Regions from separate parts of the Homo sapiens genome. Here region 1 is linked to region 2. Evidence: fine-mapped expression QTL. A gene starts in region 2. The other region holds a variant in brackets. All regions are shown on one strand. Distances are from middle to middle.

Evidence for each region.
Region 1: its variant is fine-mapped to the expression of POMGNT2 in whole blood (TOPMed, PIP 0.96).

The regions. Positions count from the first base shown.
Region 1 is chr3:43,131,561-43,135,961 of GRCh38, forward strand. No RefSeq gene overlaps it. Among named protein-coding and RNA genes, the nearest start is that of POMGNT2, 28 kb to the left of the region's middle. The variant C/G (reference allele first, on the strand shown) is at 2,248.
Region 2 is chr3:43,103,491-43,107,891 of GRCh38, forward strand. It overlaps POMGNT2 (protein O-linked mannose N-acetylglucosaminyltransferase 2 (beta 1,4-)), which reads right to left and starts at 2,589. Exons shown (of 2, transcript NM_032806.6): 1 at 2,346-2,589. RefSeq lists a silencer at 2,357-2,676.

The DNA.
Region 1 (4,401 bases), 28 kb after region 2:
ACTCCAGCCTGGCGACAGAGTGAGAGTCTGTCTCAAAAAACAAAAACAAAAAGTCCCACTCACCAATACTGCCATAGTAGCAATTAAATTTCAACATGAGTTTTGGAGGAACAGATATTCAAACCCTAATACTTAGTCGCATTCCTTTATTTGCAGATGAGGAAACTGAGGCCGGAAGGGCTTAAGTGACTGTCTAAGATGTTACATAAGTGATAAGCGGCCAAAGATGCCCCATGACTTAGAAACTACTGATATCTTTACATGGAAATATTATTGCATCTATAATCCCCGCAAGTGCATGAAGGCAGTTTTATAATTTCCATTTCCCCAATGAAAAAGTGAAAATCAGAGATGTTGAGTAACTTGCCCAAGACTTCACAGTAAATAGGTGTTAAAGCCAGGCTGCAAGAACAGGACTCTGTAGCAAAGGTACAGAGTGATACAAAATGCAGAGAAATGATGTTTAACACTGCCAGAATGCAAGGATCGGAAAAGGTTTCAGAGAAAGTGACATCTGAATGGGTCTGGAAGGAAGGTGAGAGTCCATGGGAAAAAAAGAAACAGAGCCTTCCAGGTAAGTGGAGAAGAGCAAGAACAGAGACTGAATTGTGGAAGAAGAGATAGAAAATGGATTTGGAGAATGACAGATGAGAGTGGAAATTGGGGCAGTGGTCAGCTCATCAAGGGCCTTAAAAGCCACATTAAGAGTTTTAGATTTTTTTCCGTTAAAGCAGAGCTCCTTAAACTGTAATGCGCATGAGGATCATCTGGGGATCATGTTAAAATGCAGATTCTGAATCAGCAGATCAGAGGTAGAGCCCAAGAACACATTTCCAATAAGCTCCCACATGATACTGATGCTGCTGATCTGGGACCACACTTTGAGTAGCAAAGCCTTAGACTCATGCTGTCCAATGTAGTAGTCCTCAGCCACATGTAGCTGTTTTGTCCTTGAAATGTGGCTAGTGAGATGGACGAGTTAGATTTTAAATTTTATTTCAGTTTAATTCATTTAAATTTAATATTTAGAGCATACTCAGTTTGTTATTTTAAAACCCTTAAGTACGTTTGGATTAACTTGAGTATGTGAACCAACTTTTTCAACTGTAAGATTTATGAAATCTCAGTAAAGGTCAAGTATTTCCAATGAGAGTTTATAATGAATTGAGAAGTGCCGTAAGTGTAAAGTATACACCAAAGTTCAAAAATTTTGTATGAAAAAAGAATGTAAAATTTCTCATTTTAATATTAATTACATATTGAAATGGCATTTTTGGATATACTGGGTTAAACATAAATTATTAAAATTCACCTGTTTCTTTTAACCTTTTAAAATGAGGCTATTAGAAAATGTAAAATTTCATACATGGTTTGCATTTGTAGTTCGCATTCTATTTCTATTGGACGGCACTAACATAGATGAGAGGGAGATATTATTTATTGGTTTCTAATCTAAGGAGAATTCCTGGGAGTGGCTCACGGTTTCTGCATTTGGGAAGCTGCAAGCACACAGTGATTCAGCCCCATCCCCCATGCGTGGGCAGATGAAGGCATGGGGGAATAACGTGACCCTGGATTCTGGAGGAGAATATTTATTTGAAGAGGTCCTTGGCTCTATCTTCCCCTGGTCTGCATCTGTCCAAAGGTTATACCTTGCTGGGAAACGCTATTAATTCTCATTACTTTTCTGGCCAGGATCAGAAGACAAATGGATGTATCTTTAAGACATGTAGCTCAGGGACTCCAAGCCCAGCTTGTCACTGCTCACTTTCCAGTTCACCTGTAACCATGACAACTTCATTGGCAGAAGTTGCTATGGAACATAATTCAACCTGACTCCAATTTTTTAAGAAAGAAAGAATGGAAAAACACTCAGCTTTGTCTCAGAGGAATATCAGAGATGGGCTCTCTGGCGATATGCTCTTGACTACCAACCTCATTTAATTACTTTTGCTTGTGATTTTGCTAGGGAGGCATTTCTGCCAGGAGTGATTTCCTGGGAAAGCTGTGAGGGGTTTACATGGAAATGTTACTGTTATGGGATCCAATGGCTCACATGACCTTGGGCTGGCCTGGAATAGGAAGATTTTCAGCACATGCCCTCAAGTTCATTTCATTTCCACTACGTTAGTTCTAATGAGGAAACTATCAGACATTTCATTACATTTCAGAGCTGGGAGGTGCTCGGATGGAAAATTGGGGAGGGGACTAAAAGATGGATCTGAAGCCACTGTGGGGTTAGGTCTT[C/G]GGCCTATCCAACCAAATTCAGGGAGGCAGAAAAAGCTGGGAGGATATAAGAAAAGAAGATACTGTACAACCAAAGAAATAATGGGAAAACGCTGTAATCTCGTAAGTAAATAGGAAATACCAGTACCTCGTTATTTCTTTGTTTCTAAAAAGACATGTGTGTATCTTAGATCTGTTTGCTGAAAGGGCCTAGGAGCAATGAGTGACCTTTATGACTGAATTGTAGTCTCTAAATACCATTTCCCACTAAAAGAAATCAGAGTTCCCTGAGGAATGGCTGATTTCACACCCAGAGCAGGGAATGTACAAGATGGTCCTGGCTGTGCCACAAAAGGAGATAACTGTCAATTTTAGTGGATCATATCAAAGGCACCCAGGGGTCAACTTGAAGGGTCTCCCACTGGCTAAAAATGAAACAATTTAAGCATAAAAAATTAATGCAGTAGACTGAAATTGCCATTGACTGCATCAAAATCCATGTTTATAATGATACTTTTGAAAAATAGACATTTACTGGTCAATCTTCAATGTTACTAGGGATCCTGACAAAGAAAGGGAAAGATTCCAGCATTTGTCCTGTCCCTTCTGCATGAACTGCTTTTCAGTGTAACCAGATAGGTAATGCAAGTTCTGTGTGGACAATTCCAACTAATAAAGGCAGATGGAAGGATACAATTAGTAAATATTTTAGAGTAATTTTAGGCAACAATCCTCAATGGATGCTGAAACCACTGGGTGAAATGTTGATGGAGAACTTTATACGAAAAAATCAGGGTGATAACACCTGGATCCACTGTTCCATCTCGGCACTACAAAAGTGGAATCACCAAGCATTATGTGCCTACTCATGTGATGCAATGCGAAGTGTAAAGCACCAACTCTGAGGCATTCTTGGCCAAAATATTGACTAGACGCTAATTGAACATTTATATGAAGATTTTTTTATTAATTTTTTTAGGCGCGATAATGGCGTGGTGGTCATATTTTTTAATGTCTTTATCAGCTAGAAATGCATCCTGAAGTAATTTGGGGGGAAATACTATGATGTTAGGATTTGCACTAAATCGCCCCAGCGTAAAACAAATATACAAAAGTTTGGGTAGATGAAATGAGACTGACAACAGGTTGATAACTGGGATTGGGCAGATAGAGGCTTATTGTATTATTGTGTTTTTAAGAATATTTGAAAATTTTTGTAATGAAAGGAAATCTGGGCTACACAGTTCTAGAAGGGAGGAAGCAAATTATTTTTGCTCCAAAATGAATGAAAAGCAGTTGCATTTTATGTAGGATTTGAGAGCTGTCCATCGTCCTAGCATCAAAAGTCTAGCCCAACCCACAGAGAGCCATCAGCAGGTTCTCATCACAGCTCTTACTCAGAATTTAACTCTCATCATGCATGTAAGTAGCTCCTGCACATTGTATCAAGCTTTTCTTGGTTATTCCCGCCTTCCCCACTTACACTCTTTTTCCATCTCTTTCTTTTCTCCTTCTATTTTCTCATCGTGTGTGTATCCATTGTAGCTCAGGCTCATTAAAAGACTGATGTCCAATATGAAAGAAAATGTGTGATGTACTGGTAATCAAACTTTTAAAAATACACCATTTTCAAGTGATTCACTTCACAATTTTCTGTTTTCTGACAATTTGATAAGTTAACATTGGATATCCAAACTTAGCCAATAATTAACATCGGCTATTAATCCCACTGAATATTAGAAACATACAAGACTATCATGCATCTATGCCATGATGTGGCAATATTCAAGGAAAGTCAAAATAACTAATTAGAGCAGTGCTTATGTTTCCTTTTTCAATTTTCATCTATTTAAAAAGTAATACCTCAGAAAAATCTTTAATTTCTCCAACATAAGACTATTGCCGTGTTTTAATCACCACATACACTGCAACATTCGCAGTGAACTTGCAGTTTTAGGTCTTTCTCCTTTTCCATTAAGTTTATATCACAGGTATGTTTATCGTTCTATTGGCAACTAGAGTATTTTTTTTCTTTCTTTTTTCTTTTTTTTTGAGATGGAGTCTAGCTCTGTCGCCAGGCTGGAGTGCAGTGGTGCTATCTTGGCTCACTGCAACCTCTGCCTCCAGAGTTCAAGTGATTCTCCTGCCTCAGCCTCCCAAGTAGCTGGGATTACA
Region 2 (4,401 bases):
CAGGGCTTGCCTGGGCTGCCTCTTCCTAACACCTCCTCCCCTGAACTCACTCAGGGACTGTCCCCTACAGCTTCACCATGCATCCAACACCAGCCACAGAGAGGAAACACACAGCCAGGCTGCAGGGTCCTGCCTCTGACCCACTTGGTGCGGGAAGACTCCCTGCTGCAAGACTGGAGGCTGCCCCAGGTCATAACTGGGCTTCAAGAATGCAAGAACAGCAAGGACGATGGGCAGCAGAGAAGGAGAATTACATGGCACCAGTTCTGGAGCTGGAGATGCCAGGATATGAATTCCCATCCCTGTCACTTAGCAGCTAAGTGACCTTAGGCCAATTCTTTACCTCTCCAAGCCTTCACTTCCTGGCTTGAAAAACACAATTATACCTACTTCACAGGGTAGTTTTGTGAATTCAAAGAGACAGCAAAGGCAAAACACCATGTCTGACAATTATTTTTCTAATATTATTATTAATCGTAATGGTAAAATAACTCCTGTTCACTGGCTTTCACTCTCAGCCAGGCACAGTGCTAACTGTTTTACACGCATTATCTCATTTATTCCCCACTACCTGAAGTAAATGCTATTAATTCAATTTCACATTTAAGAAGGTATGCTTAGAGGCATTAAGTGAATTGCCCAGTGATACACAGCAATTAAGTAGAGGGGTTAGGATTCAAAACCAAGACGGACTCCAAAGCCCGTGATGACATTTGCAGGTTCCACCTTTCACATTCATTATTTCATCCAATTTAAGAAACCCTGGGAATCACGTGATTGGTAGGTCCTGGGGGGAAAGTATCCCACTGACAACCAAGCTGAGATTGGCAAGGACCCTTGGAATGGGGGATTTGGTAATCTAATTTTCTAGTTAGTGCAATATTTACTAGAAGGCTTTGTTTATTGCTAAATATTTTCTAAAGCAAGGCTCAGAGCAAGAACTTGCCAACTAGCATGCTTACATGGCCACGGTGGGCCCAGCCACCAGCACCATGCCCTCCTTTCTGCTGAAGATCTCCACTCTCCTTCTCGTTCTCGCAGGGGCCCAAGGCTCAGGAAGGAACGTGCTGACCACCCCTGGGGATGAGGGGACCTATGCTCTTTCCTAGCTCTGCAGGGACTGAGATTCCTCAAAATTAATATTGAAAGGATGAGCTGGAAGATCTGCAAGATTCATGAGAGCCAGAGAGGGCAGCTAGTACCATTAAAGATGAACCTGGACTCCAAGCACCTCTAACACTTTCTGTCGTTAGTCACCACGACTGCTGATATTTGCCACACACTTACTGTTAGACATACTGGGCTGAGGACTTGCCTGGCACTATTTCATCCCCACTGCAACCCCGTGATAAAGGCACTGTACTTTCATCTCCACTTCACAGAGAAAGAAACAGAGGCTAAGAGAGGATAAGTGACTTGCTTAAACGCACACCGCTAGTAGCCGAGAACCAAGATTTGAAGGCGGGGCACATATTGTAGTAAACATTTGGTGAATGAAACCTCCTCTGTCTATGCTCTTAGCTACTAAGTCCTATCAAGCTCGCCCCATAACCCTGAAGTCATCCTTTTCCACGCGGAGCCTTGCTTCTCCCAAGAGTACGCTCTAAGTGTTGGCTGGCAATAAAGTAGGCAGACACTGGTCGCCCTGCACCTGGTGCAAGACTCTGGCCTGACGGTCACATACTTTAGCAGAGAGTTCCCATCAGTGAGCTGGAGACGGGTTCCTAAACACACACATGGAGTCAGGAGTTCACTGGGTTCCTTCTTCAGAGGCTACTCTGGCACTGCCAAGCAGGCCGTGGCAAGCTCTTACCACCGGACACACATGGTAGGTGCCCTACTGGCCCCCAAAGCGCCCAGGAATCAGCTGCAGGCCTGCCGGGGTTCTGCCTTCAAAGGCAGTTGGGGAGGCCCAGGCCCGCTCCGCGCACCTCGCGTGGCTCCCCACCACCCCCGCCAAATGTGCACCACCCATCACCTCCCAAAGCAAAAGGGCCTGAGGACCCGACGCCAGTGCCTGCCACGAGCTGAGGGCTCGAACTGGCAAGCCCCAGGGCGTTGCCCAGGTCCCCGGCCCCCGGCCCCCGACCCCCAATCCCCGGCCCCCGACCCTGAGGGTCCACCCCCGCCCCGCCCACCTCCCGCGCCTCCCTCAGCTCGCTTCACACGTCACCCCTCAGTTCTGCAAACTCTCCTGGATCCCGAAGGCGTCCTAGAACCTCCCCCTCACCCCGGGGCCCAGCACCGCGTCGTCCCCTCCAGGGGGCCGAGGGTTCGACACCTCCACTTCAAGTCCCAGGCGGGTGTCGGAGTCCGCTCCAGCCCCAAGCGCGCGCGCGTCTTACCTGAAGCCTGGACTCCGCGGGACGAAGCCACCTCCGCCGACGCGTCCAGGAGGCCCCACGGCGGCGCCGCTTTCCCACCCCGCCGCCGCCCCCAGCGCCAGCTTCTGGCCCAGGAGGCCCAGAAGGCCCAGGCAGCCAGCACAGGTTTGGCCGCGCCGCCGGGTTCGCAGCGACCGCCACCTCCAGGCTCGCAGGTGTCCGCCGTGCGCCTGCCCGGCGGGCGAGCCCGGCGCGGAGCCTGTGCGCCTGCGCAGAGCCGCGAGTTCGGTTGCCCTGGCCCCGGCCACAACCTTGGCTCGCGGAATCCTGGGAGGTGTAGTTTTGCGTACGAGGACAGCCCGCGCCGCCACCAGCCTGCGGAATGTTGGGAGTGATAATTTGCGCCGAGAGGCTGAGTTTTACTTAGTGTTAGGATTACACAGTTATGGCAGTTCTGATAATAAATTTAAATGCAAGTTTAACCAACAACCAAATGTCATTGTAAAGTCAAGGTAATTAATACGTTTACATGCTTTTAAAAATTGTAATGCTACAGAGAACTTACAAAAGCACCAGTCCTCTGCGGCACCATTCCATTAACCAGCTGTCACCTTATCCCACCGTCCAGTCCTGGCTGTCCAGTCCTCAAGGGCAGCTACTTATGGCTGTGGCATCTGGCATTCCCGCGGATTCTCCGAATATACATATGCCCCTATTTCTTGAGTTATGAATTTTAGATCTTTTGACTTCTTTTTTAGATCTCTTGACTTTTTTTGAACTTAAGTCATCTAGAGATGCACCTACCACCACCAACTCCACCTCCATAGAGTTATAAGATTTCTACCTATCAAATTGGGAAAGCCCTGACTTTAATTTATGATTATTTTAAATTAGCCCAAATGTTAAGGTATTAAGTTGGTAAATTTTTGCAGGGCAATTTGTCAATACAGCCAAAAACCTTTAAAAACATGTAGTCAAAAGCCTCTAACCAAGAAATTCTAATAATTGTGGATGACTGCAAAGGCTGAATAGTGTTGTTTAGATGATAATAAACTGAAAGGCTGAAGTGGTGATATTACTTTCAGAGAGAGTAGAATTGACAGCAAGGAAAATTACCAAGAATAAAAAAGGGATAATTATATAATGATAAAAGGTTCAATTCACCAAGAAGACATAATTCTAAATGTGGATACACCTAACGACATAGCCTTAACATAAATAAATCAAATGATAGAACCATAATTAGAAATAGACAACTCTGCAACTGTAATTGGAAACTTCAGCATCCCTCTCTCAACAACTGATAGAACACTAGACAGAAAGTCAGCAAGGATATAGAAAAGATCAACACTAATACCATCCTAATCTAATTGATATTTACATAATACTTCACCCACCAACAGAATACACATTCTTTTCAAGCAACCTTGGTATATATATTAAGATAAACTGTATCCTGGATCATAAGTTTTTAAATATACAGAAGACATTAATATATATTTTACCAAAGTAGTTATACAGATGGCAAATAAGGACAGATGTTCATCACTAGCCATAAAGGAAATGCAAATTAAGACTATGCTGAGATATCACCATACACCTATTTAAAACAGCTTAAAAAGGCAGGGCGCGGTGGCTCATGCCTGTAATGCCAGCACTTTGGGAGGCCATGGCTGGCGAATCACGAGGTCAGGAGTTCAAGACCAGCCTGGCCAACATGGTGAAACCTCGTCTCTACTAAAAATACAAAAATTAGCTGGATGTGTTGGTGCGCGTCTGTAAACCCGGCTACTCAGGAGGCTGAGGCAGGGGAGAATCACTTGAACCCAGGAGGCGGAGGTTGCAGTGAACCGAGATCGCGCCACTGCACTCCAGTCTGGGCTACAGAGCAAGACTCCATCTCAAAAACAAACAAACAACAACAACAACTACAAAACAGCTTAAAAAATAAAATAGCAAATGCTGGTGAGTATGCACAGAACTGGATCTCTCATATATTACTCACAGATGGGTATATCATGGTAGTTTCTTTTAAAAAACTAAACATATGCTTCCCATATGACTCATCAATCACACT